Linked DNA regions of Homo sapiens: region 2 is linked to region 1. The links come from fine-mapping of genetic effects on gene expression. A gene starts in region 1. The other region holds a variant in brackets. All regions are shown on one strand. Distances are from middle to middle. Region 1 holds the start of CIAO2A (cytosolic iron-sulfur assembly component 2A). Region 2 overlaps CSNK1G1 (casein kinase 1 gamma 1).

What was found. PIP is the estimated chance that this variant, and not a neighbour inherited with it, causes the effect.
Region 2: its variant is fine-mapped to the expression of CIAO2A in whole blood (TOPMed, PIP above 0.99).

The regions. Positions count from the first base shown.
Region 1 is chr15:64,082,538-64,098,403 of GRCh38, reverse strand. It overlaps CIAO2A (cytosolic iron-sulfur assembly component 2A), which reads left to right and starts at 4,566. Exons shown (of 5, transcript NM_032231.7): 1 at 4,566-4,759; 2 at 9,553-9,717. The coding sequence starts at 4,636. It overlaps SNX1 (sorting nexin 1), which reads right to left and starts at 2,422. Exons shown (of 15, transcript NM_003099.5): 1 at 2,232-2,422. The coding sequence starts at 2,390. RefSeq lists enhancers at 2,099-2,178, 2,319-2,438, 4,154-4,883, 5,244-5,293, 4,929-5,491 and 2 more.
Region 2 is chr15:64,284,470-64,300,335 of GRCh38, reverse strand. CSNK1G1 (casein kinase 1 gamma 1) reads left to right here. Exons shown (of 12, transcript NM_022048.5): 2 at 1-17. Among named protein-coding and RNA genes, the nearest start is that of CSNK1G1, 64 kb to the left of the region's middle. The variant G/A (reference allele first, on the strand shown) is at 6,794.

The sequences.
Region 1 (15,866 bases):
TTAACTCTAGAAAATAACTCCTCACTCTTCCAGGTTCCTTTTTGGAAAATAAATCAACATTTGCCTATGTGACCAATCACTTTCAGTGTCAGAGTTTCTGTTTTCATATTCTCAGTCTGCACATCATTCCAGCAGTTACCAACAGTAGCTGTCTTCCATGACTTATAGAAGAATTACTAAAGGAACAGACTAAATACTTACTTAAAATAACATACAGAAGGACTAAATTAGCGGCAAGAATTATTATTTCTCAGGCATGCACCTGCAATCCCAGCTACTTAGGAGGAAGGGAGGATCCATTGAGCCCAGAAGTTCAAGACAAGCCTGGGCAACACAGGGAGACTATGTCTCTAAAAACAAACAAAAATTGTTTCCTGTTTTATGACAGTCACAAAGACTTATTATTTCTCAGAATAAGAGACTTCATTTGACAGTTTTAGTTGTTATATTAGAATTATCAAGCACCTTATGAGCTGAGATTATGGACTCAATTTCTGAATACAGGACAGGGAAAATCTGACACAAATGAGGAAAGCCTCAAACTTTTTCAGACCACATGTTGCATAAAGAATTTATAGCTGTTTTATTTAGTTGGTTACACACTGAGTAGCTACTGTGAAGAGAAGCATTATGCCAAACAGATAAATTCACAGACCCAGCATTGAATTTTACAGCCTGGAACAACCTATACCAAGTGGTATGAGTAAATATTCTCATAAAATAGCCCAAAACATCTCTACTGGTTCCATAACTGATTACTGATTTCCACATTACAAAGATTATTTTTTTCTAATACCTAACTCTTATTAGAGACCCGGATATTTATTACTGAGGCAGGAGAATAGGGTCTGGAGGCAGGGAACTTAAGGGCAATTCATGCTGAATCAAGGAAAAACACCAAGGTTTGGGGGCAGGGAATCTGAGGTCAACTTACGTTAACTTTCTAAAAGAGAAAACACCAAGGTCTGGGGGCAAGGAATCTAAGGCCAATTCGTGCTGACTTCCCAAAGCTGAATTCCCAAAAGGAACCCCCTGGGTTTGGGGGCAGGGAACCTAAGGCCAATTAAGGCCAACTTCCTAAAGCTAAACCAAAAGGAAAAAACCCATCTGCCCACGCCCGAGTGGCAAAGGATCAAAGGCTACTATCCCTGCAACCCTCCCCATCCACCACGTCTCACATGGAAAGGGAGAGTGCCTTAGACTGGCCGCAGGCCAAGCAGGGACCATCCGTTCATCTGCACAGGACGCCAATTCACCTCGGCCTTTAGCCACAGACCAAATCCTTCATCCAGATAAGGGGTAACCCATAGGAACCATAAAAGGAGCACTTAAAATCCAGAAAACTTTGTAAGTGGGCTCTTGAGCCCCTTGCTCCGGCCCACTCACACCCTGTGGGGTGCTTTCTCGCTTTAATAAATTCCTGCTTTCGCTGCTTCGTTTGTGTTTCATTCCTTTGTTATTTTGTGCGTTTTGTCCAATTATTTGTTCAAAATGCCAAGAACCTCGACAACCTACACTCAAGGGCCTCCTACCGGTAACATTACGGGAAACACCATTTCCTCATCACATTTCAGATTTGCTCCCAGTGAGGTACGTGGGCACTTGAACACATCCCTTTAAAAAGGAGAAAGCTTTCTGATCTATGTAGTGATTTATCTGGCAGTGCCTTCTGTCCACCAGCCTCTGGCCTGATTTTCCTAGAGATCAGAAGAATCAACATAACTTTTGTAAACTAAGATCCAGAAAGGGCCTTTGGTTATTATCGGTAAATGCTGGGCTAAAGAAAGAACTGGTGGGCGGGTCACCACCCCAGGCTAGTCCACATAACGCTATTCATCTTAGAAGCAGTAAGACGGGGGAAAGGTCTGCATCCCATTCGCTTATTCCGTCCTACTGAATCTGCCTTGGCAGGACACGACCTGCAAAATAACCCCGTGGATCCGTGGAGTGTCACCACACTGCAGGGTCAAAGGACGGCGTCGGCGGTTCTCGGCTGTTAGGGAGCTAGCCGACGAAGGCACCACAACCCTCATTCTTTACTCTTCCCGCCTGGGGGCCGGGAAGCCAAGCTCTACCGCTTCGAGCACATCCAGGGTCCCCGGGGCCCGGACTGCTGACACCGAGGCAAGGTCTCACCGGGCCCACTCTGCCCAACCTCCCCGATTCTCGCTTAGCCTCTCTTCCCTTTCGGGGTGCCCTCCCGCCTGCTACCCCGAGGGGTGCAAACTCACGACCACCGCGGCGCCGGTGAAAATGTCCTCCCCCTCGGTGTCGCTGTCCCCAGCCTCGGGTTCTGATCCCCCGGCCGCCCCCTCGGACTCCGGCTCCAGGCCGGGGAAGGGCGGAGGCAGTCTCTCCGAAGCGCTACAGCCACCACCACCCGACGCCATCTTCTTCCACCCGCGGCGGAAGCCGCAACAACAACTTTATCGAGAGATAGCGCCGTGAGCAAAGCGATCCAACGGTGCGAGGAGTGGGAGGGCCGCAAGGGACCCCGTGGGATCCGAGGGGCGGAGACCTAGGGGCGGGGCTTAGGCGCTGGGGGCGGGGCGGCACCCGGCCAGCTGAGGCTGCGCAGCAAATCCGAGGCCTGGTTCGCGATGCTGAGATATTAACGAGTGGGGCCAAAGGGGCAGAAAAGTAGGAGTTAGGGGCTGCTCAGGTTTCTAGGGCCCTTTGTGCTCTGGATAGCTTTATCCAACAGGCTTCTAAGAGTTCGTCTGAATGAAGGAGTGTCACTAAAATGTTTGAAAACCTCTACATGCCATCTACCCATGCCAAGCACAATGCCCTCACAGAGAGTCAATAAATATTTCGATTGAGGTATCTGAACAAGACTAGAAGAAAGCTTCACCACTTATTCCTTGAGCAACATTCAGTTAATTCATTAAGAAATACAGATACTGAGCATCTACTGTATGCCTGGCACCTTGCTGTGAGTTTCAGATACAGAAATCAGGTATTTAATCGACAGTTCGACATGTTCAATGCTATGGTGCCCTGTGGGAGCACAGGGAAAGAGATAATCAATTCTGCTTGGAGAAGTAGGGAGGCCTCACAGATGAAGTGAGGCCTCAGTGTCCTAGATTTGGCTGGAAAAATGTTAGGATTATCCTCTCAATTGCTGTGGAGTAAGTGGAGTGGAATAGACGGCAGGGAAATTATTGAACCCTGACCAAAATTTCCTTGGGACCTAAGCAATTCATTGTCTGGTGATCCTAAGGCCTACATTAACTAGACAAACAAGACTGGAGTTTAAAGATAAATGGGCATGTTAGCATGGGACAATTCTGCAAGATAATCCTATCTTCTCAATAGAAATGGCATTTGTCACCAACTTTGACAAGAGGTTTAGTTAGTTTGGTTGTAACTGCAAATTCAGGGATGGACTCCCTCACAGGTCATGTGAGCTGTTTGAAGGCGGGGGCAGCGTTTTATCTTTGTATCTTCCATGCCTATGGATCACCTATGGCAAATTAGTACCTACAAATTTGATCGGAGGGATGGATGGATAAAATAAAATCGATTTTGTTACTGGCATCCATCACACCCACGAACACCAGAGGGCTTAAGATACACTTTTTTTTTTTTTTTTTTTTTTGAGGGAAGTCTCGCTCTTCTCCCCCAGGCTTGAGTGCAATGGCTCGATCTTGGTTCACTGCAACCTCTGCCTCCTGAGTTCAAACGATTCTCCTGCCTCTGCCTCCCAAGTAGCTGGGATTAAGGCCCCTGCCACCACGCCCAGCTAATTTTTGTATTTTTTAGTAGAGACGGGGTTTGCCCATGTTGGCCAGGCTGGTCTCGAACTCCTGACCTCAGGTGATCCGCCCGCCTCGGCCTCCCAAAGTGCTGGGATTATAGGCGTGAGCCATCGCGCCCGGCCAAGATACACTTTTAAGGATGGCGATCTCCATTATGTCACCACTGTACACATTAGACACGGGAAAACTTATGTTCTAAGTTGTCTTTGGAGGCCATTAGCAGAAATATTCGTTCAAAGGTGGGAAGCTGTGCTGGACTGAGTCCCTTAGGAGACGAGAAAGCCAAAAAGCCCTCCCCATGCCATACCTGACTACCTCACTGGCTTCCCATGACATCCCTTTTCACAGCAACTGAAACCTACTTCCTGTCCGATCAGGAAGTAAGAAAGACGTTGGCTGTCAGCGGATCCCGCGGAGAAATAATTGTAAAGAGTCTCCGTGCTGGAGAACTCAAGATCTCCTTTCCCCTACCCCTTCAGGATTCATCTTTAACTTATCACGGATACTGAGTGAGTCAGTCGCGGTTAACAGACCGTTACATCCACTTCTACCAGGCGGACACTACAAGTCCCAGAATACAATTCGCTGCCTTCCGAAGAAAATAGCTCACGCATCCCAGCATGCAATGTGCTGACGAGCCGCGAAGATTGTTTTTGTCCCGCCGAAATCGAGCAAAGCACGCTGGAACTTGTAGTCCTTGAGGCCCCTTCCCTAGGTCCTTCGAGCTACTCCGTCTGGCCCCGCCTTTTCTCTGCTCTCCTGAACCTTTAGGCTTGTCTCGGCCCATTTGAAGACCAGGAAGTTGATCAATCCCGAGGCTGCTGAGAGACGGTGGCGCGATTGGGACAGTCGCCAGGGATGGCTGAGCGTGAAGATGCAGCGGGTGTCCGGGCTGCTCTCCTGGACGCTGAGCAGAGTCCTGTGGCTCTCCGGCCTCTCTGAGCCGGGAGCTGCCCGGCAGCCCCGGATCATGGAAGAGAAAGCGCTAGAAGTTTATGGTAATTAATTTTACCCAGCACAGCATTTGGCGTTATAGGTGCAGGCCGGAGCTGAGGGGTGCGGGGATGATGGCCTCACCTGAGGGCTGGGAGGGGAGACCTTTTTTTTTGTTTGTTTGTTTGTTTGTTTTTGGCCAGATCTTGTCCGGGGCGTAGCAGGCGCTTTCTTCGGGGTCCTAAGTCACGTGGGGGGTGTGGGTCTTTCTGGGAACTGGGCTCTTCGTAAACCTGGGGCAAGCCGAACCCAGAGGTCTTAAAAGCTTCATTCTCCACGTGTGGCCTACGTCTTAGTAACCATTCCAAGACTTGTGGGGAGACCACAAGTCTAGGGTGCCTGGTTAGGAAGCAAAGCTGGCCTGATTGCACTACTAGAGCCTCGTTCTCTAGCTCCTGGACACGCACTCTTGCTACCGCTGAGGGCGCTTGTGGGTGACAGTCGAGTTGGGGACTGGCCCAAGGTCACAGCCACTCTATCCGGCAAAGTCAGTAAGCAGAGGTCCCCGAAAGAAGAGAACGAGATTGGCTTCTTGTAGCAAGGCCTTGTGTACACACACATAACGCACACACACACATACACACTCTTCCATGTTGCATATTAAATATTTTCTGTTTAACCCTTGGGGCCATCTTTATTGTACAAATGAGGAAACAAAGGTTAAAGAACTACCTGGAGGTCACACTGCCAGTAAGGAACAGAGCCAAAAAGCAAAGGCTGTGCCTACTGGTTCTAACCGTAATGCACTTTCCACCACTTCACAATTGCCTTACAACTTTTTGTTTGTTTGTTTTTTTAATTATGTTGTATTGTTTTTGAAAACCGAAAAGACTGGATATAATATTGAGAGATCTAACCATAGAATACAAATATAATTCAAGTAAGGATTATAGGCCAGTAGAAGGAAGCCAGGGTTAGGAAATACTCTGGGAGCTAATTTGGTTGACCTCTCTTACTAGAGGCAGGACTTACCTAATCAGCCTCCAGGCAGATGATAATTGTGAGTAAAATGATCTCCACAAAGCAGACCACATCCCTGTCCTGCCAGATCTCTGTCCACATAATCTAGGGATGGTAGGGCACTGGAGATACAACTTTGGAAGAGAGTGACTCTAGTCTTCAAACTGATATTGAAGGAAACCCATATATGCAAAAATAGAGTATGTAATAGAAGGCTGTAGACTGAATAAGAGATACAGAAATTCAGAGAAAGGGAGATACTAGTCTCTGACTGAGGGGATCTAGAAAGACTTTGAAATAAAGAGAAGGAGCCACTTGAGTTGGGCCTCAAAGAATAATTAGGATCTAGATATGTAGAGGGTCAGAGGGCATACTAAGAGGAAACTTAAAAGCATGGAGGTAAGAAGATAGGAAATGACAGATAGATGGGGCTATAGGATAGGGTTTGTGGTTAAATGTGAAGATGTGGTTGAACATTGTTCTAGGTAGTGGGATGCAGTTGGATACTGAAGGTTTTAAATATAAATGAAGAATTTTAATAGTGCAGTGCTGTGGAAGAATGTTAGTGTGGGGAGTAATATGAGGAGAACTTTCTTTTAAATTTTTTTTTTTTTTTTTTTTTTTTTGAGACAGGGTCTCACTCTGGTAATCAGGCTGGAGTGCAGTGGTGCAATCACTGCTCACTGCAGCCTCCATCCACCTCCAGGGCTCAAGCCATCCTCCCACCTCAGCCTCCTGACTGACTGGGACCATAGGCATGCACCACCATGCCCAGCTAATTTTTGTATTTTTTTGTAGAGATGAGGTTTTGCTATGTTACCCAGGCTGGTCTTGGACTCCTGAGCTCAAGTGATTTGCCTGTCTCGGCCTCCCAAAGGCTGGGATTACAGGCATGAGCCACCACACCCGGCCCTTCTTTCTTTTTAAAGAAGTAAAGCCAAACCTCTCAAATCTAGAAACTAGAAAACTAGAGAAATTTAATAAGGATGATATTTAATTTCAGGGTTTAGTGGCATATAAAGAATATAATACAATTAAATGAGCCTTATGGGGAGAAAGCCTAGTATGAGAGGCAGAAAATTCCTTTTCAGAAAACTCTGTTTCCCTAAGTCCCATGATAACACAGCTCTGTGAAAGAGAAGCTTTGTCGACTTTCTTGCCTATGTTTTCCAATTCTGCTTCTTTCTTTCTTTTTTTTTTTTTTTTGAGACAGAGTCTCTTCTGTCACCCAGGCTAGAGTGCAGTGACACAATTTTGGCCCACTGCAGCCTCAGCCTCCTGGGTTCAAGTGATTCTCCTACCTCAGCCTCCTGAGTAGCTGTGATTACAGGCACATGCCACCACACCCGGCTCATTTTTGTATTTTTAGTAGAGACGGGTTTTTGCCATGTTGGCCAGGCTGGTCTTGAACTCCTGAACTCAGGTGGGTGATCCACTTGCCTCAGCCTCCCAAAGTGCTGGGATTACAGGCATGAGCCGTCATGTTTGGCAAAATTCTGTTTCTAATCAAGTGACAAGCCCAGGAGCAAATTAAAGAGAAAATAGAATTTGTTCTTGTTTTTCCCAGTTGCATTTCTGATTACATATAATTTTGTGTGATAAATAATAAAACAAAACTTCAGATTTGAGAACCTCAAGCACATTCTATGTAAAATTCTGCTTCTTTCCTTTCTACCTCACCATTTCTCTTTATTGTTCTCCTTTCCTTCATCTCTTTCTCCAGCCTCAGAGTAAGAAAGAAATCTTGTCTTCTCCAAGGCCAACTGAGACTTCTAAATATTTGATCCCACTCCCTTCTGCTTATTTTACCAGTCTCCGCTCCTCCCAACTTATATTTTCAATTTCTCTCCTCAAAGTTGCCCTTATCCTTGTCATTGTTCTAGCTTCCTTATAAAGTCATTGTCCTTTTCATGTCCCTCCCTTCCCAGCTAAGGCCCTAGGAAGACATTTTCAGTTCCTACTTGCTTCCCCTTTTGCAAGCTGGCTTCAGCGCACGCACTCTCTACTGAAACTGCTTTCTTACAGCTGGCTGGGGTGACAAATGAAAGACCTGTTTTAGCTCTCATGAGCCTGAATTTTTCTGCAGCATTTAATGTTATTAACCATCCCTCTCTTCCCTCCTCTAGTTCTTTTTGCTTTTGTTTCTCATTCTGATCCCTAAGTTAGGTGCTTCGCATGGATCTGTTGGGTCTCTTTTTTCTTTATACCACTGATTCTCATACTGGGTTGTACCTAAGAACAACCCGAGAAATTTTTAAAACTCAAAGGCCAGCAAACCAATTAAATCAGAGTCTCTGGAATTGGGGCCCAGGCATCAGGTTTTTTTGTTTGTTTGTTTTTGTTTTTGAGACGGAGTTTTTGCTCTGTTGCCCAGGTTGGAATGCAATGGCGGGATCTCGGCTCACTGCAACCTCTGCCTTCTGGTTTCAAGTGATTCTCCTGCCTCAGTCTCCTAAGTAGCTGGGATTACAGGCGCCCGGCACCACGCCTGGGTAATTTTTGTATTTTTAGTAGAGACGAGGTTTTACCATGTTCACCAGGCTGGTCTCGAACTCTTGACCTCAGGCGATCCACCCGCCTCAGCCTCCCAAAGTGCTAGGATTATAGGCCTGAACCACGCGCCCGGCCTTGTTGTTTGTTTTGAAACATTCTTGGTAATTCCAATGTTCAGCCAAGGTTCTACTTATTCTTTGTGAATCCTGTGGGTTTGACAACCACTCTAGCTTTGATGCTGTTTTAAACTCTATGCTACAGTTTACCACTTGCTAGAAAACTCCATTGGATAACCCCTTAAGCACCTCAAAATCATTCTGTGTGAAATTGAACTCATTTGCTCTATGCCCCACCCAAATTTCTTCCTCGTTCTGTTTCTTTTAGTTCTGCCAGTGTTGTCCTAGATACTATTTTAGGCCTGGTGTTTTTAGCTGGTATCATTGGTTCTGCTTTTTAGTCTGAGTCTAGCAGCTGATGATGAGTTACCAGCTGACAGCACAGTGTTGTCCATGTCACTTGTCTCAAACCTCTTGAGGACTTGCTATTGCCGGTAGCTGGCTGTAAAAGACACTTGATGGTCAGACCCAAATCTCATACTCTAAAACACCTTTCACTTATGCCTGCTTCCAGGCAAACTAGGGTTCTTCTTCTTTACTTTACTTTCCTTCACTTTTTTTTTTTTTTTGAGACAGGGTCTCGCTTTGTTGCCCAGCCTAGAGTGCGGTGACACGATCTCCGCTCTCAACCTCTGCCTCCTGGGCTCAAGCGATCCTCCTGAGTGGCTGGGACCACAGGCCTGCACCACTACACCCGGCTAATTTTTGTGTGTATTTTTTGTAGAGACGGGGGTCTCATTATGTTGCTGAGGCTGGTCTCGAACTTCTGAGCTCAAGTGATCCTCCCGCCTTTGCCTCTCAAAGTGGTTGGTTTACAGGTGTGAGCCACCATGCCCAGCTACTTTCCTTCACTTTAAATGTCAAATATTGAAATGTTACCTATTTTTCAAGGCTTGATTCAGATTCCGCTCCTATAAAGCCTGATAACCACATTCTTTCAAGCTGAAAGTTATTTCTTCCTCTTGAGCTTCCATGACACTGTTTCCATTCTTATTATATTTTCTCTGCAATGTCCGATTGGAGAAACTGGATATGGTCTTATAATAATCCAAGAAAACAGTTTTCTCAAGAGGAAACCAGTAGTGAAAATTTCTGTCAGAAACCTGGGAGTTGCTGTACTATTTGCTTAAACGTAAGAGAAGTCAGTGCTTAAATTAGGCCTGGCAAAATCATCTTTATTTAGAATAGTCATGTTTTAATAGAATATCTTATCTCTGATGATTCTTTAGATTTGATTAGAACTATCCGGGACCCAGAAAAGCCCAATACTTTAGAAGAACTGGAAGTGGTCTCGGAAAGTTGTGTGGAAGTTCAGGAGATAAATGAAGAAGAATATCTGGTTATTATCAGGTTCACGCCAACAGTACCTCATTGCTCTTTGGCGACTCTTATTGGTAAGTTTTTCTGTACATACATGTATATTTATATAAATTCTAAGTTATTCTTGCTGATATTGACCCATAATAACAATTTGCATCATTGTTGAAAAACCATACAGTGTATGTATTACACTTTATGGTTTACAGAGTATGTTCGTGTATTCATCTTCTGTAGTCCTCACAATTAGCTTGTTGAGTTAAAATATTATTATCTTCATTTTGCAGATGAGGAACCTGAAGCTCAGAGAGTTTAAGTGACTTGCACAGAATCAGGTAGCCAGGAAATGGTGAAACTAAGGCTCATACCCAGGTCTCCTGACTCCACTTCTCCTTTAGTTATGTCAGGCTGCCCCTCCCAGGTATATATGCCCACAATTAATGGAGAGTGCATGTGGGCCAGTGCTTTTCCTCAGTTCTGGAGGTTGGAGTGGGTGGTGTCAGACTAGCATTGCTTCCATCACCATCTCCTTTCAGTGACTCTTCTGGTTTCTACATAGTATGGGTAGAAGTCCTGGTAGGAGGTTGGATTCCCAGTATTTTGGATTTGTTAGCAGGTACAATAAATGTATTTGAACATATGCTTTGTTATAAAGGGATTTTATTTCAAACCAAATGTTCATGAGTAGGGGATTGATTAAATAATCATTGATGGTGAATATAAACAGTGGAATACTATGCAGCTATAAAAAAGAATGAAGAAGCTCTGCATGTACTGATATGGAGAGATCTCTATGACATACTGTTAAGAAATAAAAGCAAGTATCATTTTGCTATCATTTGTGTAAAAAAAGCAAAAACATACATTTGTATTTGATTGCATATGCCTGAATAATATTAATACATAAATGAATAGCTATAAGGGTGTTAGCGGGTAATAGTGGTGGTGGGAGCTGGGCAGATGGGGGAAAGGGTGGGAGGGAGACTTTATACCTTTTTATGTTTTTACATTTTCAAACCATGGGACTATCTCACCTATTAAAAAGCAACAAGTTTATAAAAAAGATTGAAAAGGTCGCTATTTCGTTATTATTTCCACTATTGTGATTTCTGTCTTTTCTCACTGGTTGACCTGGGTTCCCTCTGCTGGTGGTTTCCACCATATAGGCCACATCTTGAGGGACTGGAGGTCTGTGAATCCATAGGTATTATTGTGGTTATTAAAATCCCATTGGTGACCGGGCGTGGTGGCTCACACCTGTAATCCCAGCACTTTGGGAGGCCAAGGTGGGTAGATCACTTGAGGTCAGGAGTTTGAGACAAGCCTGACCAACATGGTGAAACCCCATCTCCACTAAAAAAAATACAAAATTAGGCCGGGCGCGGTGGCTTACGCCTGTAATCCCAGCACTTTAGGTGGCCGAGGCGGGCAGATCACGAGGTCAGGAGATGGAGACCATCCTGGGTAACATGGTGAAACCCTGTCTCTACTAAAACTATAAAAAATTAGCCAGGCATGGTGACGGGTGCCTGTAGTCCCAGCTACTCAGGAGGCTGAGGCAGGAGAATGGCGTGAACCCGGGAAGCGGAGTTTGCAGTGAGCCGAGATTGCACCACTGCACTCCAGCCTGGGCATCAGAGCGAGACTCTTATCTCCCAAAAAAAAAAAAAAAAAAAAAAGCAAAATTAGCAAGGCATGGTGGCACACACCTGTAATCCCAGCTACTTGAGAGGCTGAGGCAGGAGAATTACTTGAACCTGGGAGGCAGAGGTTGCAGTGAGCTGAGATCATGCCATTGCACACCAACCTGGGCAACAAGAGCAAAAACTTCATCTCAAAAAAAAAAAATTCCCATTGGCATGGCGGCTCACACCTGTAATCCCAGCACTTTGGGAGGCCAAGGCAGTGGATCACTTGAGGTCAGAAGTTCAAGACCAGCCTGGCCAACATGGTGAAACCCCATCTCTACTAAAAATACAAAAATTAGCTGGGCATGGTGGCACGCACCTGTAATCCCGGCTACTCGGGAGGCTGAGGCAGGAGAATCGCTTGAACATGGGAGGTGGAGGTTGCAGTGAGCTGAGATTGCGCCACTGCACTCCAGCCTAAGCAACAGAGTAAGACTCTGTCTCAAAAAAAAAAAAAAAAATCCCATTGCTAGAAAAAGCATTACTGAATGCTGAATGCATGGTTATTTTTGGTCATTGGACAATTTGTGAACGAACAGATACTGAAAGTACTGCTGTGGGTGTTGTGGAGGGGGTGTCTTAAAATATTTTGACATATAAGAAAGAGTTCTTAAATGGAGAGTTCAAGAACCTATAGCAAATTTATTTATTTATTTATTTTTTGAGCTGGAGTTTAACTCTTGTCACCCAGGCTGGAGCGCAATGGTGCAATCTTGGCTTACTGCAACCTCCGCCTGCCAGGTTCAAGCGATTCTCTTGCCTCAGCCTCCCAAGTAGCTGCAATTACAGGCGCCCGCCACCATGCCTGGCTAATTTTTTTTGTATTTTTAGTAGAGATGGGGTTTCACTATGTTGGCCAGGCTGGTCTCGAACTTCCAATATCAGGTGATCTGCCCACCTCGGCCTCCCAAAGTGCTGGGATTACAGGTGTGAGCCACCACTCCCAGCCAGCAAATTCATTTTTAAAATTAACATTTATTTAAATTATATGAGTAACATGTTTATTGGCAGTAATTTTGATACCCCACAAAAACATAAAGAAAAAAACCAGCTATTATGAAAGAATGTCACTGGGTGCAGTGGCTCACTCTTGTAATCCCAGCACTTTGGGAGGCCGAGGCGGGCAGATCATGAGGTCAGGAGTTTGAGACCAGCCTGGCCAACGTAGTGAAACCCTGTCTCTACCAAAAATGCAAAAAATTAGCTGGGCGTGGTGGCGGGCGCCTGTAATCCCAGCTACGTGGGAGGCTGAGGCAGGAGAATCGCTTGAACCCGGGAGGCGGAGGTTGCAGTGAGCGAAGGTCACGCCACTGCACTCCAGCCCAGGCTACAGTGCGAGACTCCGTCTCAAAAAAAAAAAAGAATATATGCTCTGGGCTAAAATTCCAGGTCTATTGGCTGTACCGTATTGTGGGCTTCGGCAAGTTACTTAACCTTTCCAAGACCCAGTTTCCTTATCTGTAAAACAGGAATAATAAGGATATCTATAGAGTCGTAAGAGTTAAGTAATAGCATGAAATACATGAATTATTTTTCTCATTAAATATTTCTTTTTTTAAATTTTTTTTGTTGTTGAGACAGGGTCTCACTCTGTCACCCAGGCTGGAATGCAATGACACGATCTCGGCTCACTGCAGGCAGCCTCCACCTCCCGGGCTCAAGTGATCCTCCCACCTCAGTCTCCTGAAAAGTTAGAACTTCAGGCAGGTGCCACTATGCCTGGCTAGTTTTGCCATGTTGCCCAGGCTGGTCTCAAATTCCTGGGCTCATGCCTCAGCCTCCCCAAGTGCTGGGATTACAGGCATGAGCCACCATACCTGGCCATCATTAAATATTCTTTAATTATATAGTTATAGGTTACATGCTAATCATATTGGTACATCAGAAGTTTTGTAACCATTTGGACTACTTCTAGCCTTTTGCAATTATAAATAATACTGTGATGAGCAACTTTATTTTATTTTATTTTATTTTATTTTATTTTATTTTATTTTTTGAGACAGAGTCTCACTTTATTGGCCAGGCTGGAGTGTAGTGGCCACTGGAGCTTCCACCTCCCAGGTTCAAGTGATTCTCCGCTTCAGCCTCCCGAGTAGCTAGGATTACAGGCATCCTCCACCAAGCCCAGCTAATTTTTGTATTTTTAGTAGAGACGGGGTTTCACCATGTTGGCCAGGCTGGTCTCGAACTTGTGACCTCAAGTGATCTGCCCTCTTTGGCCTACCAAAGTGCTGGGATTACAGGTGTGAGCCACCGCGCCTGACCGAACAACTTTATATATAAATATTTTTATTTATTTATTTTTTGAGACGGAGTTTCACTCTTGTTGCCCAGGCTGGAGTGCAATGGCATGATCTTGGTTCACCACAACCTCCACCTCCCAGGTTCAAGCGATTCTCCTGCCTCAGCCTCCCAAGCAGCTGGGATTACAGACATGCACCACCACACCTGGCTAATTTTGTATTTTTAATAGAGATGTGGTTTCTCTATGTTGGTCAGGCTGGTCTCTAACTCCCAACCTCAGGTGATCCGCCTGCCTTGGCCTCCCAAAGTGCTGGAATTAGAGGGGTGAGCCTCCGTGCCTGGCCTTATATAAATATTTTTATATATCTCATTATTGCATCAGGATAAATTCCTATACGTGGAATAATTGGGTTAGATTATGTAAGTATTTTGAAGCCTCATGGTATATATTGGTAAATCCCTATCTGGAAGTTTATACTGTTTGACGCAGGAGTTAAGGAACTAATTTTATAGAAGAAAATATTCGCCAGACGTGGTGGCCCACACCTGTAATTGTAACACTTTGGGAGGCCGAGGCGAGAGGATCACTGGAGCCTAGGAGTTTGAAACCAGCAATCTCTTAAAAAAGAAAAAAAACATGAAAAAGCTTGAATAAGTTCAAATTGCATCATGATTGCAGTTATAGAAAAATGTGTACGTGGACAAATATCAGGAGAGTGCATGAAATAAAAACTGTTCTGTAAGGGTGCTAACATTAGATTATAGTTGATATTTCAGATCTGTACACTTCCTGTAGAAAGTTTTGTCTTAGCCCTTTCGTTATGCATTTCAGCTAAGACCATTGGCTTTTTATTTTTTATTTTTATTTTATTTTATTTTATTTTTTTTTGAGACAGAGTCTTGCTCTGTTGCCCAGGTTGGAAAGCAGTGGTGCTGTCTTGGCTTACTGCAACCTCTGCCTCCTGGGTTCAAGCGATTCTCGTGCCTCGGCCTCCAAGTAGCTGGGATCATAGGCGCGTGCCACCATGCCCAACTAATTTTTTGTATTTTCAATAGAGACGGGGTTTCTCCATGTTACCCAGGCTAGTCTCAAACTCCTAGCCTCAAGTGATCCGCCCACCTCGGCCTCCCAAAGTGCTGGGATTACAAGTGTGAGCTGCCACACCCGGCCTATTGGTTTTTTAGAGAATTGTATAATAGTGTATCATAGTAGTTTTGTTCAGTCAACACAGCTGGAAAACTTGAGAGAAGCCTTCGTCTGTCTGATGTGTTAACAGATATTCCTCCAGAGCAGGTAGTCCTAGCCTGGAAAGGTGCCTGAGTAAGAGTATCACCTACTCAATGTTACCTTGGTAAGTGATTGACAAGGAAGACTCCAAGGGAACAAGAGGGTAAGGCAGGGAAACAAGTTGATAATCATTTGTGGTGACTTATTCCAGATAAGAATGGCTGAAGGCAGCTGTGGTCCAATGGGAACGGTCTTAGGGTTTGGAGGTCAGAAGGTGTAGGTTTGGGTTCTACCTCTGCCACTTGTTAGCTAAGTAATGTTAAATCACCTACCTTGGTTTCTTGGCTGTAAAATGAAAATTATAAAATAGTATAAAATAGTAATATTTTATACTATTATTTTTTACTATTTATAGTAATTATTTTTATACTATTATTGTACACTTATGTGTCAGGTACTGTTTTAAACACATTGCATAACAGGTTATTCCTCATAGCAACCCTATATATTGTGATATTATTATATATATTTTTAAGTTTTATTATTATTATTATTATTATTACTTTTAGAGATGGGGTCTTGCTACGTTGCCCAGGCTGGTCTTGAACTCCTGGGCTCAAGCAGTCCTCCCGCCTTGGCTTCCCAAAGTGCTGGGATTACAGGCATGAGCCACCTTGCCCAGCTGATACTATAATGCCTGTTTTGCAGATAAGGAAACTGAAGCTCAGAGAGGTTAAGTAACTTATGCAGGATCACAGCGAGTATGTAGTGAAGCTACTTTTGAAACCCAAAGTATCTCAGTTATGCTGTACTACCTCTCTTGAGGATAATGATGCTCAAAAAAGTGCTTTGCGAATTGTAAAACACCTACCAATAGTGACTAAAATACGTGAGGATATTCAGACAGTACACAGATAACAAATTAAGGAGACAATGGTGGGGCCAGGGGAAGAGGAACTCTCCCAGATATGCTTTAAGGCAGATCCTCTGAAGAGAGACCCTCTTAAGGAAATAATATATTTTCTTTAGAATTCTCTAATATTTATTATAGAACTACTGTGTTCAA
Region 2 (15,866 bases), 200 kb before region 1:
CGGAGAGCTCAGATTAGGTAAGCACTTGGTTATGTCAGTGACTTCTACTAACAACAATACCTATGATAAGCTTTGGTGTGTTTCAAGACAAGCCGTTTATAGTTTTACAAGAAATTTTTCTTAAGGAGAACCTGTTGTTAAGAAATAATTTGTGAAGGGGCACTATAGTCATTATCAATTATTTGTTATCCAAGGCTCATCTCTCTTTATGTGTGTGCGATGGGCTTTTAAGTTTTCTACCAGTTCTGAGATTTTCTGATGAACATAGAGTTGCATACAGATATCAGTAAAATGCAGACTCTGATTTAGGATGTCTGAGGTGGAGCCCCAAATTCTGCATATTTTTACAAATTCCAGGTGATGCAGATGCTGTTGGTCTTTTAAGAAGGACATAAGGCCTTGGTTTAATTCAGACTCTGCCCCTGAAAAGAAAAGAGTAAATCCTTACTCAGTAATACCCAGGCTTAGTCTGCAAGGATATACAGTACATCCTGTTTGGAGAAATTTTCCAAAAGATAATTTGTTTGCGTTTCTTCCTGGAGTTTCCAGCATTAGAATTAAGTTAGAACTCCAAGGAGAAGTTAGGCAATTTTATTTCCCAACTAAGGCAATGGATTTTCTATTTCAATTATGAATTTATGGGTGAGATGGAAAATAATGACAAAATTAATCTGTCTAAAAATGTGAGATTGGGAAGAAGGTACATTGGGTATTTATATATATATATAAAATTTTTTTTTTTTTGAGATGGAGTCTTACTCTGTCGCCCAGGCTGGAGTGCAGTGGCGCGATCTCGGCTCACTGCAAGCTCTGCCTCCCGGGTTCATGCCATTCTCCTGCCTCAACCTCCCAAGTAGCTGGGACTACAGGCATCCGCCACCACGCCCGGCTAATTTTGTTTTTGTATTTTTAGTAGAGACAGGGTTTCACCATGTTAGCCAGGATGGTCTTGATCCTCTGACTTCGTGATCCGCCCGCCTCGGCCTCCCAAAGTGCTGGGATTACAGGCGTGAGCCACCGCGCCCGGCCATTTATATACTTTTTAATGGCTCTCCCTTGATGAGTGGGATAGAGAAAATAAAAGGCCGTATAAATATATGAAGTTGGAAATTAGCCTGGAGAATGTGGAAAGGTCATCTTTTAGGCTAAAGTGTTTTCTTTTCCTTCATAGCTCTTGAGACTGTGGATTAATGTGAAGACTCATTGTAAGAAACTTTGGCCCTTTGGGGGGAGTGGTGGGAGGGTGGGAACATAATGTAATTATGTTTGTTACCTCTGCTACTTCTTTTTCTTTTTGAGATGGAGTGTTGCTCTGTCACCCAGGCTGGAGTGCAGTGGTGCGATCTCAGCTCACTGCAACCTCCTCTTCCCAGGTTCAAGTGATTCTTGTGCCTCATCCTCCAGAGTAGCTGGGACTTACAGGCATGTGCCACCATGCCCAGCTTATTTTTTTTTTTTTTGTATTTTTGTGGAGACGGGCTCTTGCCATATTGGCCAGGCTGGTCTTGACCTCCTGGCCTCAAGTGATCCACCCGCCTCGGCCTCCCAAAGTGCTGGGATTACAGGCTGAGCCACTACGCCTGACCACCTCTGCTACTTGTGATGGTCCTGCATAGAGAACATGGACAAAATCTTATCTCTGATCCCCCATAGAGAGCCTTGGAGAAACATCACTATACTAGCCAGAGACCATTTGAATTTAAGAATGATGAGAATGGATTTATTTTTACTGTTAGAAGGCTGACAACCTGGAAATTCAGGACTTAATTAGGATAATGAAAGGATCTTTATATTTAGAATTGTGTTCGGGTTACCAAAGCCAGCAGATGCTACTTACAATACGAGTAAGATGTGTAATTACTGCTTTACTTTCTAGCAATCACAGAGTTGCTTTAACGAATAGTTCTGTGAATATTTCTTTATGTCATAAATTGACTGTAACATCACAGTACTACTTGGATGGATTAAATAATTATGACATAAACATCCATAAAATGATTGCTAAGAGGCAGTTTCTAAAGCATCTAAATCTTTGAATTCTCAAAACATCAGACAATTGTTTCATTTCTGTGAAAGTGAAGAAAAACCTTGGTGAATTAAAAGTGGAAATCTGTTTAATCACTGAAGTCTAGATTTGTATTATAAGTTTACGTGGGAAGGGAAAAATTCATTCAGTTAAAAGCATACATTTATAGCCCATATATATTTTCAGAGTAGTATTGTGTTTTGTTTCCTCTTTGAATCTGAGATAATTTTGATGTTTCTCATTTGGACTTGCCTGTAGTCAGAAGAACTTGTCTTTCTTTTCATGTGCTTTTACTCTTCTCTGCTTATCAAGTTTTCATTAGCCCTGGGACCATACTGTTATGGCCTTGTATCTAGAAAAGATACTTTCAGAATTATCTGGCATCTTCCTGACAATAGAGTGGGCTGCATACCCCATTCCGTCATTTTCTTGTTCTAATATTAGCGAGGAGAAGATTGTAAACTACAAAATTCCAAAGTCAAGGCAGGTGCAGTCAGCCTACATCATGGCTACCACCTACAAAGCTCTGCTTCTCTAAACTAATTTCCTTTCCTAGACACACAGTCTGTCAAACAGCCAAGTGCATTTCTTCTTATTCTTTTTTTTTTTTTGAGAGACAGGGTCTTGCTCTGTTACCCGCCCTGGAGTGCAGTGGCATGATCATAGCTCACGCAGCCTCCAACTCCCAGGCTCAAGCGATCCTCCTACTTCAGCCTCCTTAATAGCTAGTGCATAAGAACACGCCCAGCTAATTTTTTTATTTTTAAATGTTTTGTAGAGATGATGTTTTGCAGGCTGGTCTTGAACTCCTGGCCTCAAGCGATTCTCCTGCCTTGGCCTTCCAAAGTGTTGGGATTACAGATGTGAGCCGCCACACCTGACCAACCGTGTGCATTTCTGCTTCAGAGCCTTTACACTTGCAATTCCTTCTGCTTGCAGAATTATTTCCCTAAAATTTTGCGTAGTGGGTTGTTTCTCATCCTTTAGGCCTCAGCTTATGTCTTACCTTCTCAGAGAAACATTCTATCACTTGTTCCTCATTCTCATTTAAAATAGCACGTTTCTTCTCTAGCACATCCTGTCTCGTCAAACTGCTTTATTTTATTCATTGCATTCATCACTATCTGAAATGACCATATGTATGTTTCCCTATTAATTGCCTCTCCTTACTTGAATATAAGCCCTTTAAAGGGCAGGGATTCTTTCTGTATTGTTTACTGTTATTTATGAGATGGAAGGATAAAAAGCTGATGAATAGGAAGAGGGGGGAAAATAAAGCATACTTTCTTTGGGCTCCAGGTTTATGTGGGGGTGGTGGTAGATAGTAGACCTATCGGTTCCAAACAGCAAAAAAAAAAAAAAAAAAAAAAAAGTAACGATAGTGCATTTTGGTTCTCTGCAAATGTTTCCACCCCATTATACAGTTTTCTTTTTTTTTTTTCTTTTAGATGGAGTTTTGCTCTTTTTGCCCAGGCTAGAGTGCAGTGGCACAATCTCGGCTCACTGCAACCTCTGCCTCCCGGGTTCAAGTGATTCTCCTGTCTCAGCCTCCCAAGTAGCTGGGATTACAGGCGTGTGCCTCCATGCCCGGCTAATTTTTTATTTTTAGTTGAGGCAGGGTTTCACCATGTTGGCCAGGCTGGTCTCGAACTCCTGACCTCAGGTGATCTGCCCACGTCAGCCTCCCAAAGTGCTAGGATTACAGGCGTGAGCCACTGCACCCAGCCTTCATCATACATTTAACAACTATTTCTTGAATATTTACTGATACTAGACTCTGGGAAGGATAGAAATAAGAAGATATAGTTTTTGTCTCTACAAATACCACAGTCTAGTGGTAGACAGAGAAAAACAAATTGCAATACAAAGTGATAATATAGCAGATTGGGGGCTGGGTGTAGTGGCTTATGCCTGTAATCCCAGCACTTTGGGAGGCCAAGGCAGGCAGATGACTTGAGCTTAGGATTTCAATACCAACATGAGCAACGTGGCAAAACCTCGTCTCTACAAAAAATACAAAAATTAGCTGGGTGTGGTGGTATGCACCTGTAGTCCTAGCTACTTGGGAGGCTGAGATGGGAGGATGGCTTGAGCCTGGGAGCCTGATGCTACCATGAGCCAAGATCACATCACTGCACTCCAGCCTGGGCGACAGAGTGAGACCGTGTCTCAAACAAACAAAAAACCAGATTGTATGGAAACTACATTGGCAGAGAAGGTTAATAAAGGCTTCAAAGAGGAGGTATGATTTGATGATAGGACAGGATTTCTGCTGGTAGACATAAGGAAGAAGAGCTTGTGCAGGATACACAATCACTAGATACTGTGCAAGTGCCCAGCATATCACAGCAGCATTTAGTTATACATGACTGGGTCATAGGATGTGAAGTGAAAGAAAAGTAATAGAATGAAGCTTTTAGGTAAGTTGGGACGAAATTGTGAAGTGTTTGCATATATTAAAGCATTTGGACTTTATCCTGTAGGCAATGGGGTCGAATCATCAGGAGTTTTACAACAGAGTGACATAATCTAGTTTATATTCCAGAAAGAGAATTCGGGTTGTATTGTAAGATTAGATCAAATAGGAAAGAAGTTGACATCTTGTAGATTTTGCTCTAATTGTAATACTTATCATGTTGTACTTTATTCTTCCATTTCTCTCTCCCAAGATAGGTGTAAGGGTATTACTTTGCTTTTTAGTCCTCATATTCTAATTCCTTTCACTGTGTGTGGTATGTAATGGGTACTCAAGAAAGGCTGAATTGTCCAGGTCAGAAGTAGCAGGGCCTTTGGTCTTAGCTCTGAAAATGGAAGTGAGATGGAGAGAGGACAGGGTAAATTAGAAATTTTAGACATAGACTTTAGGCAGGATTTAGTCACTAATTATTTGATGGGAAGAAGTCAAAGATGACTAAATGTGCCAGCTTGAAGAGACCTTATAAATGAGGAAGATGTAAACCCATTTATGCCGGAAGCTGCAAATTTTTTTGTGAAAAATCAGACCTTGGTGATGACCTCGAGCAGTGTATATAAATAACTCCCACCAGCCTAGCGTTCCAATAATGGAACACTAGGCATAAATGAGTTAATTGAGATAGTAAATATAGGACTAGGGAGAGTGGTTGGGAAGGCAGGTAAGATAGAGTTTGTGAATATTTGAGGACTGGGTGACACATATGCAGAAATGCATATCTGAGACTTAGAAAGTTAGGCTTGAGATAGGGATTAAGAAATCACACCAAACTAGAGATGGGGTTTCACCATGTTAGCCAGGATGGTCTTGATCTCCTGACCTTGTGATCTACCCACCTCGGCCTCCCAAAGTGCTGGGATTATAGGCATGAGCCACCGCGCCTGGCCACCCCCCGACCCTCTTTTTTTTTTTTTTTTTTTTTTTGAGACGAAGTTTCACTCTTGTTGTCCAGGCTGGAGTGCAATGGCACGATCTTGGCTCACTGCAACCTCCGCCTCCTGAGTTCAAGCGATTCTCCTGCCTCAGTCTCCCAAGTAGCTGGGATTACAGGCACCTGCCACAACGCCCAGCTAATTTTTTGTATTTTTTGTAGAGACGGGGTTTCACCATGTTGGCCAGGCTGGTCTTGAACTCCTGACCTCAGGTGATCTGCCTGCCTTGGCCTCCCAAAGTGCTGGGATTACAGGTATGAGCCACCACTCCTGGCCCTTCCCTATCTTTTTAAAATGAGCCATGTGTATTTTGTAATCAGCAAAAAGTAGTAATCAAAGCAAAACAATTTCATTAAAGCAAATTTTTTTAAAAAGAAAATACACTTATTGCTTAAAATTTTTTTTTAATTCTACTTTAGAGGTGTCTGTGGAGATAACCAGTAATGATGGTTTAATTTTCTACAGCTCAAAAATGTGTATTAGGACATATTTTAGAAATGCAATCAAATTGTGCTCTAAGCTTCCTCTTATGGCTGGGCGTGGTGCCTCATGCCTGTAATCCCAGCCCTTTGAGAGGCCGAGGTGGGCGGATCACCTGAGATCAGGAGTTTGAGACCAGCCTGGCCAACATGGTGAAACCCCATCTCTACTAAAAATACAAAGAATTAGCCGGGCTTGGTGACGGACGCCTGTAATCCCAGCTACTCGGAAGGCTGAGACAGGAGAACCAGTTGAACCTGGGAGATGGAGGTTGCAGTGAGCTGAGACTGCACCACTGCACTCCAGCCTGGGAGACAGAGTGAGACTCCGTCTCAAAAAAAGAAGCCTCTTTTTATTGCTTAATAGAGCATGAACATCTTGTTTCAACTTAAATATATCTCATCAATTTTAAATATTTCTATAGTATTCAATTTAGCCATTATCAATATACACAAAAATTATTTTGTATTTTAATACTATAATTAATACAGTACTCCTGCAGTCCCCAACTTTTTTGGCACCAGGGACCCATTTCATGGAAGACAATTTTTCCATGTACCAGGGGTGGAGGATGGTTTCAGGATGAAACTGTTCCACCCTAGATCATCAAGTATTAGATGTAGGCTAGATCCCTCACATGCACAGTAATAGGGTTTGCACTCCTGTGAGAATCTAATGCTGCCACTGATCTTTCAGGTGGCACTCAGGTGGTAATGCTTGCTTACCCACTGCTCACCTCCTGCCATGCAGCCTGGTTCCTAACAGGGCCACGGACTGGCACTGGTCTACTCGATCTCCTTGTATTTAAAGTTGGTTTAATTTCTTAGACTACATCCTGGAAGCGTACTTTTTGTGTCAAAGGATATGTACGTTTGCAATTTT[G/A]TTACACATTGTCAGTTTGCCCTCCAAAAAGATGTTTCACTTTGTGTGTATGTGTGTCCTTGTGCTTATTTCCTCCAGTGCTTCAGAAATCTTAAACAATATCAAGAATCTTTTCATCTATGACAGTCTGATAGGGGAAAATGGTATTACTTAAATGTGTATGTGTTCATAGGTGAAGTTAAACATACTTACACATATTTGCTTATTTTTTTAAAGAGTATTTCTATGTGGCCTTTGCTCATTTTCAATGGAAAGATTATTTCTGTGGAGTCTTTTGTGTACTGCCTCAATGAAAGGAGAATTATGAAGATTTAAGACAGAAGGGAAAATTGATGGATAGTGATTGTGTAGGTAGGAGGACATGATGGGATGAAAACAGATTTTATAGATTGATACTAACTGAAAATCATGGGGAATCTTGTGAGAACTTTCTCATTTTTAAAGTTTTGAGCCTTCTGCTGAATCAGGCCTGGAAAGAATCATGTAAACATTAAAATAAAATTATTTTCCTCTAGAGTTAAGAAAATATACATCCTCAATGTACAAATAATTGCTGATGTTTTTCTTAGTTGCAAGAATAAGTAGATAGATGATATTTATTTATTTATTTATTTATGAGATGGAGTCTCGCTCTATCACCAGGCTGGAGTGCAGTGGCGCGATATTGGCTCACTGCAACCTCTGCCTCCCAGGTTCAAGCAGTTCTCCTGCCTCAGCCTCCTGAGTAGCTGGGATTACAGGTGCCCGCCACCATGCCCGGCTAATTATTTTTTGTATTTTTTTAATAGAGACAGGTTTCACCAAGTTGGCCAGGATGGTCTCTATCTCCTAAGCTAGTGATCCAGCCACCTCGGCCTCCCAAAGTGCTAGGATTACAGGCATGGGCCACTGCACCTGGCTGGTGATATTTCTTTCACATCCACATAGGGGTGCACGTATGTTTATGGGAGACCTGTTAGACTAGAGAGACAGGCGTATGATTTTAATAATATTCATATTATCCTTTTGAAGTAGGATAGAGTGAGAGGATGTTTTTACTTGCATACAACAAAATGGAGGCACAACAAATTAACCTTTTTGATCTTTTCCATCTTTGGTGTCTGATGAAATATGCAAAAATGCATTAACACAGGATACTTCTGACAAAGGTAAATAAATTGGCTAAGGGTAGCAGCTTGTTCTGTGACACTCCTGCATGGCTTCTAAAGTAAGACACTTATTTCTGTGATTGATGTAGGATTTATATGACAGGCTCTGCATATTGTTCTTTCCTTGTCTGAATTACTGAACTGTCACTTGTGAACTTAAATTGGAACTTTTTTTTTTTTTTTTTGTGACGGAGTCTCGCTCTGTCGCCCAGGCTGGAGTGCAGTGGCTCGATCTTGGCTGACTGCAAGCTCCGCCTCCCAGGTTCACACCATTCTCCTGCCTAAGCCTCCCGACTAGCTGGGACTACAGGCGCCTGCCACCACGCCTGACTAATTTTTTTTTTTAATATGTGTATTTTTAGTAGAGACGAGGTTTCACCATGTTAGCCAGGATGGCCTCGATCTCCTGACCTTGTGATCCACCTGCCTCGGCCTCCCAAAGTGCTGGGATTACAGGCGTGAGCCACTGCGCCCTGCTTTTATTGGAACTTTTAACTTCTGCTACTAGCTTTTCTTTTTTTGGCAGTTGTAATTATTAACAATTTACAGATGAATACTATCTAAAGCAGTTCATTTCATATTATATCCCACAGTCTTAGATCCATTATTTTCCACTCCAAGTCAATGAGAAAAGAAAAGTGAGCAGGCAGAACTCTCCATGTTATCTGTTTTATACATTTTATACATTTGAGTTTTCAATAAGATTTTGTTTGAAAGGTATGATTCTGCTGCTTTAAACATTTTTGAAAATCATCTGAGAGAATGCAGGCTTAAGATGAAACATAATTTTATTTTATTTTATTTTTGAGATGGAGTTTCACTCTTGTTGCCCAGGCTGGAGTGCAATGGCATGATCTTAGCTCACCGCAACCTCCACCTCCTGGATTCAAGCAATTCTCCTGCCTCAGGCTTCTGAGTAGCTGGGATTACAGGTGCCCACCACCACACCCAGCTAATTTTTTGTATTTTTAGTAAAGATGGGGTTTCACCATGTTGGCCAGGCTGGTCTCAAACTCCTGACTTCAAGTGATCTGCCCGCTTCAGCCTCCCAAAGTGCTGGGATTACAGGCGTGAGCCACTGCACCCAGACCAAAATGTAACATAATTTAAAGGTATTTCTTCTCTAGTTCAAAATGAAGCCATTTTAAAATCAAATTTTTGCTTTTAAGTTAATAGTTTCTTAGAAAATCATGGTATTTTAAACAAATGAAAGTGTATCAGCCAAACACCTAATTAACCAGAAACATTGATATATATTTGTAACCTTGTTAAAGTTTTCTTATAAATTTACAAATTTTTAGGTTCTGTGGATGGAACAAACTAAAACAAGTTTTAGAAGTCATGTCATTCTTCTGCTTAAGTGATTAAAAATAGGAGTCTTGGCTGGGCATGGTGGCTCACGCCTGTAATCTCAGCACTTTGGGAGGCCAAAGCAGACAGATCATCTGAGGTCAGGAGTTGGAGACCAGCCTGGCCAACGTGGTGAAACCCCGTCTCTACTGAAAATACAAAAATTAGCCAGGCATGGTTGTGGGCGCCTGTAATCCCAGCTACTCGGGAGGCTGAGGTGAGCTGAGATCGTGCCATTGCACTCTAGTCTGGGTGACAAGAACGAGACTCTGTCTCAAAAAAAATAAATTAATTGAATTAAATTAAATTAAATTATAACTTTAGATAAAATGCATTCTAATTTTTTTGTTGTTATGTGGATATATTCCCTAATGGTGAAGTCTGGGTTTTTTTGTGTAACTATCACCTGAATAATATGCATTGTATCCATTAAATAATTTCTCATTTCTCACCTCTTTCCCACCCTTTTAAGTCTTCAGTGTCTATTATTCCACACTCTGTGTCCATGTGTACACATTATTTAGCTCCCACTTATAAGTGAAAGCATGCATTTTTTGATTTTCTGTTTCTGAGTTGTTTCACTTAAGTTAATGGCCTGCAGTTCCATCCATGTTGCTGCAAAAAACGTGAAATTTTATTATTTTTTTAAGGGCGGAATAGTAGTTCATTGCCTGTCTGCCTGTGTGTGTGTGTGTGTGTAAAATGTGTGTGTGTATGTGTATGTGTATATATATATATAAAATCATCCATGAGGGACACTTGTTTCCGTATTTTTGGCGATAAACATAACATATGCAGGTGTCTTTTTGATGTAATGATTTCTTTTCCTTTGGGTAGGTACCCATTAGTGAGATTGCAGGATCAAATGGTGGTTTTAGTTTTTTGGGAAACTTCCATACTGTTTTTCATAAAGGGTGCACTCATTTACATTCCCGCCAACAGTGTATAAGTGTTCTCTCTTCTCTGCACCCATGCCAACATCTTTTATTTTTTGACTTTTTAATAATAGCCATTCTTAGGAGTGTAAAAGGCTTATTGGAAAAACCAACAAAACAAAAAATAATAATAATAGCCATTCTGACTGGTATAAAATTATATCTTATTGTGGTTTTAATTTGCATCTCTCTGCTGATTAGTTCTTTTGAGCGTTTTTTCATATGCTTCTTGGTCATTTGTATGTCATTCAAATGTCATTCAAATGAAGTCATTTGTATGTCTTCATTTGAAAAATGTTCATGTCCTTTGCTCACTTTTAGATGAGGTTATACGGTTTTTTGTTATTGTTTGTTTAAGTTCCTTGTAAATTCTTACAATTAGTATTGTAAATACTATAATATCCTTGTAATTGGATATTAGTTTCCTGTTAGATGCAGTTTGCAAATATTTTCTCCCATTCAGCAGGTTGTCTGTTCACTCTCTTATTTCTTTTGCTGTGCAGATGCTTTTTAGTTTAATTAAGTCCCATTTGTCTATTTTGTTTTTGTTGTGCATTTTAATTTTCTTGGAAGAATATCAAATGTATATGAGATTCTTGTTTGTAGTAGTATCGTAGTTTAAATTTCTTTTGGAATTACACCCTAGTTTAACTTAAGCACAATTTGTTAAGGTTAAGCAGTTTTAACAGATCTTGGAGAAGAATTATTTCTGTCAATAGCATAATCCATCAAAATAAAGTAGAAATGAAGAGTTCTAACCACATTAGGTGACACACAGTCTGCATTGCATTAATATGGTAATTTTAGAAGTGTCACAGATACAATACTTGCAAGATTATGCATTGACATCTTGAATGGTTAACCAGAAGAATGTAATGGTAAAATTTCCAGGCTTGCCAAACAATTCCGGAATTTTTTTTTTTTTTTTTTGATACAGAGTCTCACTTGTTCGCCCAGGCTGGAGTGCAGTGTTGCAATCTCGGCTCGCTGCAGCCTTCATCTCCTGGGTTCAAGTGATTCTCGTGCCTTGCCTCAGCCTCTGGAGTGGCTGGGGTTACAGGCGTGCACCACCACGGCCGGCTAATTTTTGTATTTTTAGTGGAGATGGGGTTTCGCCATGTTGGTCAGGCTGGTCTCAAACTCCTGAGATCAGGTGATCTGCCCACCTTGGCTTCCCAAAGTCCTGGGATTACAGGCATGAGCCACCATGTCTGGCCACAATTTTTGAGGAGGACTATGAAAGTAGGATGGTTATGGGCAACAGAAGTTTATAGAAAGATGTGTTTATGAGGGTGATTCAGAAGCAGTATTTACATGATGTCATCATGCATCCTAAGGAAAAAACTGTCTGAACTTATGGCCTACTTTTCCAGAAGGCGGCAAAGCTTTTGTCAAAGAAAGTGGAGCTTACTGCCAGCTGTTGTGGGCTTTCAAAGAGCAGGTGATGCTGGATTGATTCAATTTTTTTTTTCTATGTTGGGGTTACTAGGACAAGAGGAAATATATATATATACACATGCACACAAACACACACACACATACACACATATATATATATAACTTTATAAAGTATCATGTAATATTTTTTATAATTTATCTTTAATTCCAATAACTAGGTTACATAGATTCTAAAGTTCTGAATCCTATAGGCAAGTGGTTCAATTATTTTATCCATGTCGTCTAGATACCTCCTTATTTCTAAATATTATTTCTTAATTTTTTCAATATTAGATGTTGTTATTGATTGTCTCACAGATGCCATCCCTAATGACGTACATACCTTGCCCATATTCTCCCAATATACTTATGTCATATTTTTTGGTTCAATAATTTTTTTACATTTACAGCTTTATGGCTGTGGAAGTATTGTTTACAACCAATCTATGAGAGCACTGTTACTGTATTTCCTTTTTAGTATGACTCCATCATTCCTTCCCTCAGAATTAAAAATTGCTGATACTTGATTTTTAAAAAAAATTCTTAGTTATCAATATACCTTTCATTAATTTTTTTTCCTCAAGTCCAACAATTAAAAAATTTGTCATGATATTAGGTAATTCTGTGTTTAGATTCCTTTTCTGCTGGATGGCTTAGTTTTGCTAAGTCATTTACCATTTGTTTATTCAATTCTCATCTTCCAAAATGTTGACATCTCTAGTCTACTGTTTCCTCACCTGTTCTCTTTGTCCTTTCTTGTTTCCTTTGTCCTTTCAGTGGGGTTTTGGAAATAAATAGAGCTAAATGTCTCAATTTTTTTCTGCCATGTTAAACTAGATGTCTATGTTATACATTTTTATTTCAGCAGGGCATTTATTTGACATACTTTTGTGTATTCTGGTAACATATAGAAATGTGCGGTGACTGAAAAGATAATTAAGTAGATTTGTCATTCCTTTAACCATCTTCATAAAAGAGAATGAGTTAATGGATCATTGCCCTCATTGATGCTAAACAGTAGAATTCTGTATTTTGGTCCTATCCACTTCAACAGTGAATTGGATCAAACCTTTGAAGAACATACTGATGAAAGCTGTACACAACACAGTGCTTTGGGTGGGGCAGCTAATATGTATTGCTGGTTAACAGAATCAAGATTCAGCATTATATTAAATAAGCAAAGAGTTGAACAAAAGTCCTAACCATGGTTCACAAACCAGTTCTACTGTACAATTTTAGATTTGACAACTAGATTAGCAAAAATTAATATGAAAAAGATGACTGTAAGTTTAGAATGAGACAAGAATGGTCCCAGGCTTCCCAAAAGTTTATGGTAACTTTGAGTAACTTAATATGTGAAGTCCAGATCAACAAAAGTAGTTAAGTTTTAGACTTATAAGGAACTTTAGCATTGTCTAGTTCAACTGTCATCGTTTTAAAGATGAGAGAAATTAAAAATTAAGTGACTTGGTCTAGGGAGAACAACCAGCTTGTCACAGAATTGGAACTACAGCCCAGATCCAAGACATCACAAGTAGCTATTTCTATTATATGCCATGTAGTCTTACCGGTTACTGGTTAAATGTATAGTTGAAATACCACAAGCCAGAAAAAAATAGTTACAAAAGACATCAGAATAAATGTCTAATTATAATACAAAGATGATAGTCATTAGCATTTAATATAATTACATGTTACCAGAAAAAGAAATATAAATAAAGTATAAAATGATAACTAATGATCTTTTAAGTGACACCATCTAGTTTTTATGGTGGATCATCCCCAACATTAATCGTCAGAGATTTTCCAGGGGGTGAGGAGGAAAAACATTGGTAAATTAATTATTGTGAAGTTTAATATTATACTATTGCAAAGTAAATTTAGAGCAGAATCAAAGTGGAGGATGTTATAAACACTATGCCTCTTTCAAATAAAAGGCTAGGGGTAGATTTCCATAATTACCTAGCCATTTATTCATTTAACAAATTGTATTGAGCATCTGGTTTTTTGGCAGGCATTTAGCTAGGCCCTGGGGGTACAAAGATCATAAATAAGACATGGACCCTGCTTTTGCCAAGATCATTATTTGGGGATTCATACTTAGAAATTAGTAACTATACTGCAATGCAGTAAGTAAAATAATAGAAGAAATATATAAGATAATTAGCTTATATATATTTATAATTCTAAGTGTTTTTTGATTAAAGGACTATTCCAGGTAGTTTGGGTTAATGTTTGTACTGTGAAACTAGAAGTTAACATGTTAACAATATGAGTTAACAATATATTGTTAACAATATTGTTAACAATAACATGTTAACAATATTGTTAACAATAACATGTTAACAATATCAGCAGAGTGGGGTCCTTTTTGAGGGTTGTAATGCTACTTTTTATACTTGTTAGTCTTCCAATGTAGCTTAGAAAGAGTGATATCTCTGCTGGAATTGGCAAATGGCAGAAAACCTGCACAAATAAGACACTCTGAGTTGAACCTTTAAGGCTCGAGCTGGGCAGTAAGGAGAAAGGGCTGGGGTCCGGGGGTGAGAACGTGAAAGAACATTCTCAAAAGAGGAAGCCGCACCATACAAAAGGCATGGAGGTGTGAAACACAAGAAAATGTAAAGAACCTCAGCACTGCTGGAAAGCATGGGTGACTTAAGATCCACAGGGGTCGTTCAGTGGAATTGGTATTAGGAAGTGAGGCCGGAGATGTGAGCAAAGCCTGTTCTTGATCATGATAGAGATTTTGGACTTTATTGTGTAGGCCATGAAAAAAGGAGGAATTACAAGTCATCGTTTTTTTTTTTTCCCCTTCTTGGAGAAGATAAATTAACTAGAGTGATCTCACTCCCCTTTCCTCCAAAATGTAGTTTTTCTGTGCTTTTAGAAAACATGGAGCAATCTGTTTTTATCCAGAGGTGTTCATAGCTAAAGAATAGTAGGATTTTTTTCCAGTTTATCAGGGCAAAAAGCTGAAACAGTAAATGCTTTGTGATTTAAGTAATTCTAAATGTTTTTTGATTAAAGGACTATTCCAGGTAGTTTGGATTAATGTTTGTTTGTACTGTGAAACTAGAAGTTAACATGTTAACAGTATCTCAGCAGAGTAGGGTCCTTTTTGAGGGTTGTAATGCTACTTTTTATACTTGTTAGTCTTCTTTATTTTATAAAGTACTTCAGCAAATAGATTAACCTAAATGATAAACAGTTTTTTTGGATTTGAACATCTAGACTATAGACAGGTTTAGGATAATTCTAATTTATGGAGCTTTTTTGTTTTGTTGGTTTGGGCAATTTTTTTTGGTAGGCAATATTGCAATGTCATCACAAAAATTAGAACAAAGACTTTGTTCAGGTATGTGTGTACCTTGATATAAATGTTGGATATACTTTGGGATTCGGCTTTTTTATTAACTACATTGCTATGTGGTTTTCATGATTATAATTTTAATGGCTACATTCTATTTCTTCAAGTGGAGTACTAGAACTGTTAACCATAAAATTGGGCTTCCAGTTAAATCTAGATTTTATTATAATAATAAATAACAATAAACATTTTCATGAAAATAGAGGTTATTATAAGAAATGTATCTTCCTCTGTAGCTTCTGGATAAATTTTATTTTGTATAGATTGCACAGAAAATTTATACATTGATGATACAACTATATTTTTCAATAGTTTTATTCTACTCTAAAATATTTGTATTGAGGAGTCAAGGCTAAATGTGGAATTTTTCACAAAATTTGTATACAGTATAAGTTAACAGTAATATGAATTAGAATTATAAATTATATTTGCTGAAATTTTTAGCTGTGTCTTAGTAAAACTTTCATATGATATCACTTGTGTTAATAAGCTCCAGCTGTCTGGAACAAGGCTGAGGACTAGGAAACAAATCAAAATAATAATAAAAATTAAAAATATCTTAGCCAAAATAGTTCCCTAGTAGACATTTAAGAGATACTAATATTATTCTCATTAAAAGACATAATATGTTTCTGGGGATAGATCATGAGAGAAGAGGTCTGAATCAGTATTACACAAAAGTATATATATTTAAATCAAAAATTAAAAAAATTAAAAATTTCACTTACATTAGCATCAAGAATAAAATACTTAGGAATAAATTTAATAAAATGAGTACAAAATTTATACTCTGAAAACTATAAAGTATTGTCATAGGGAATTTAAGATCTAAC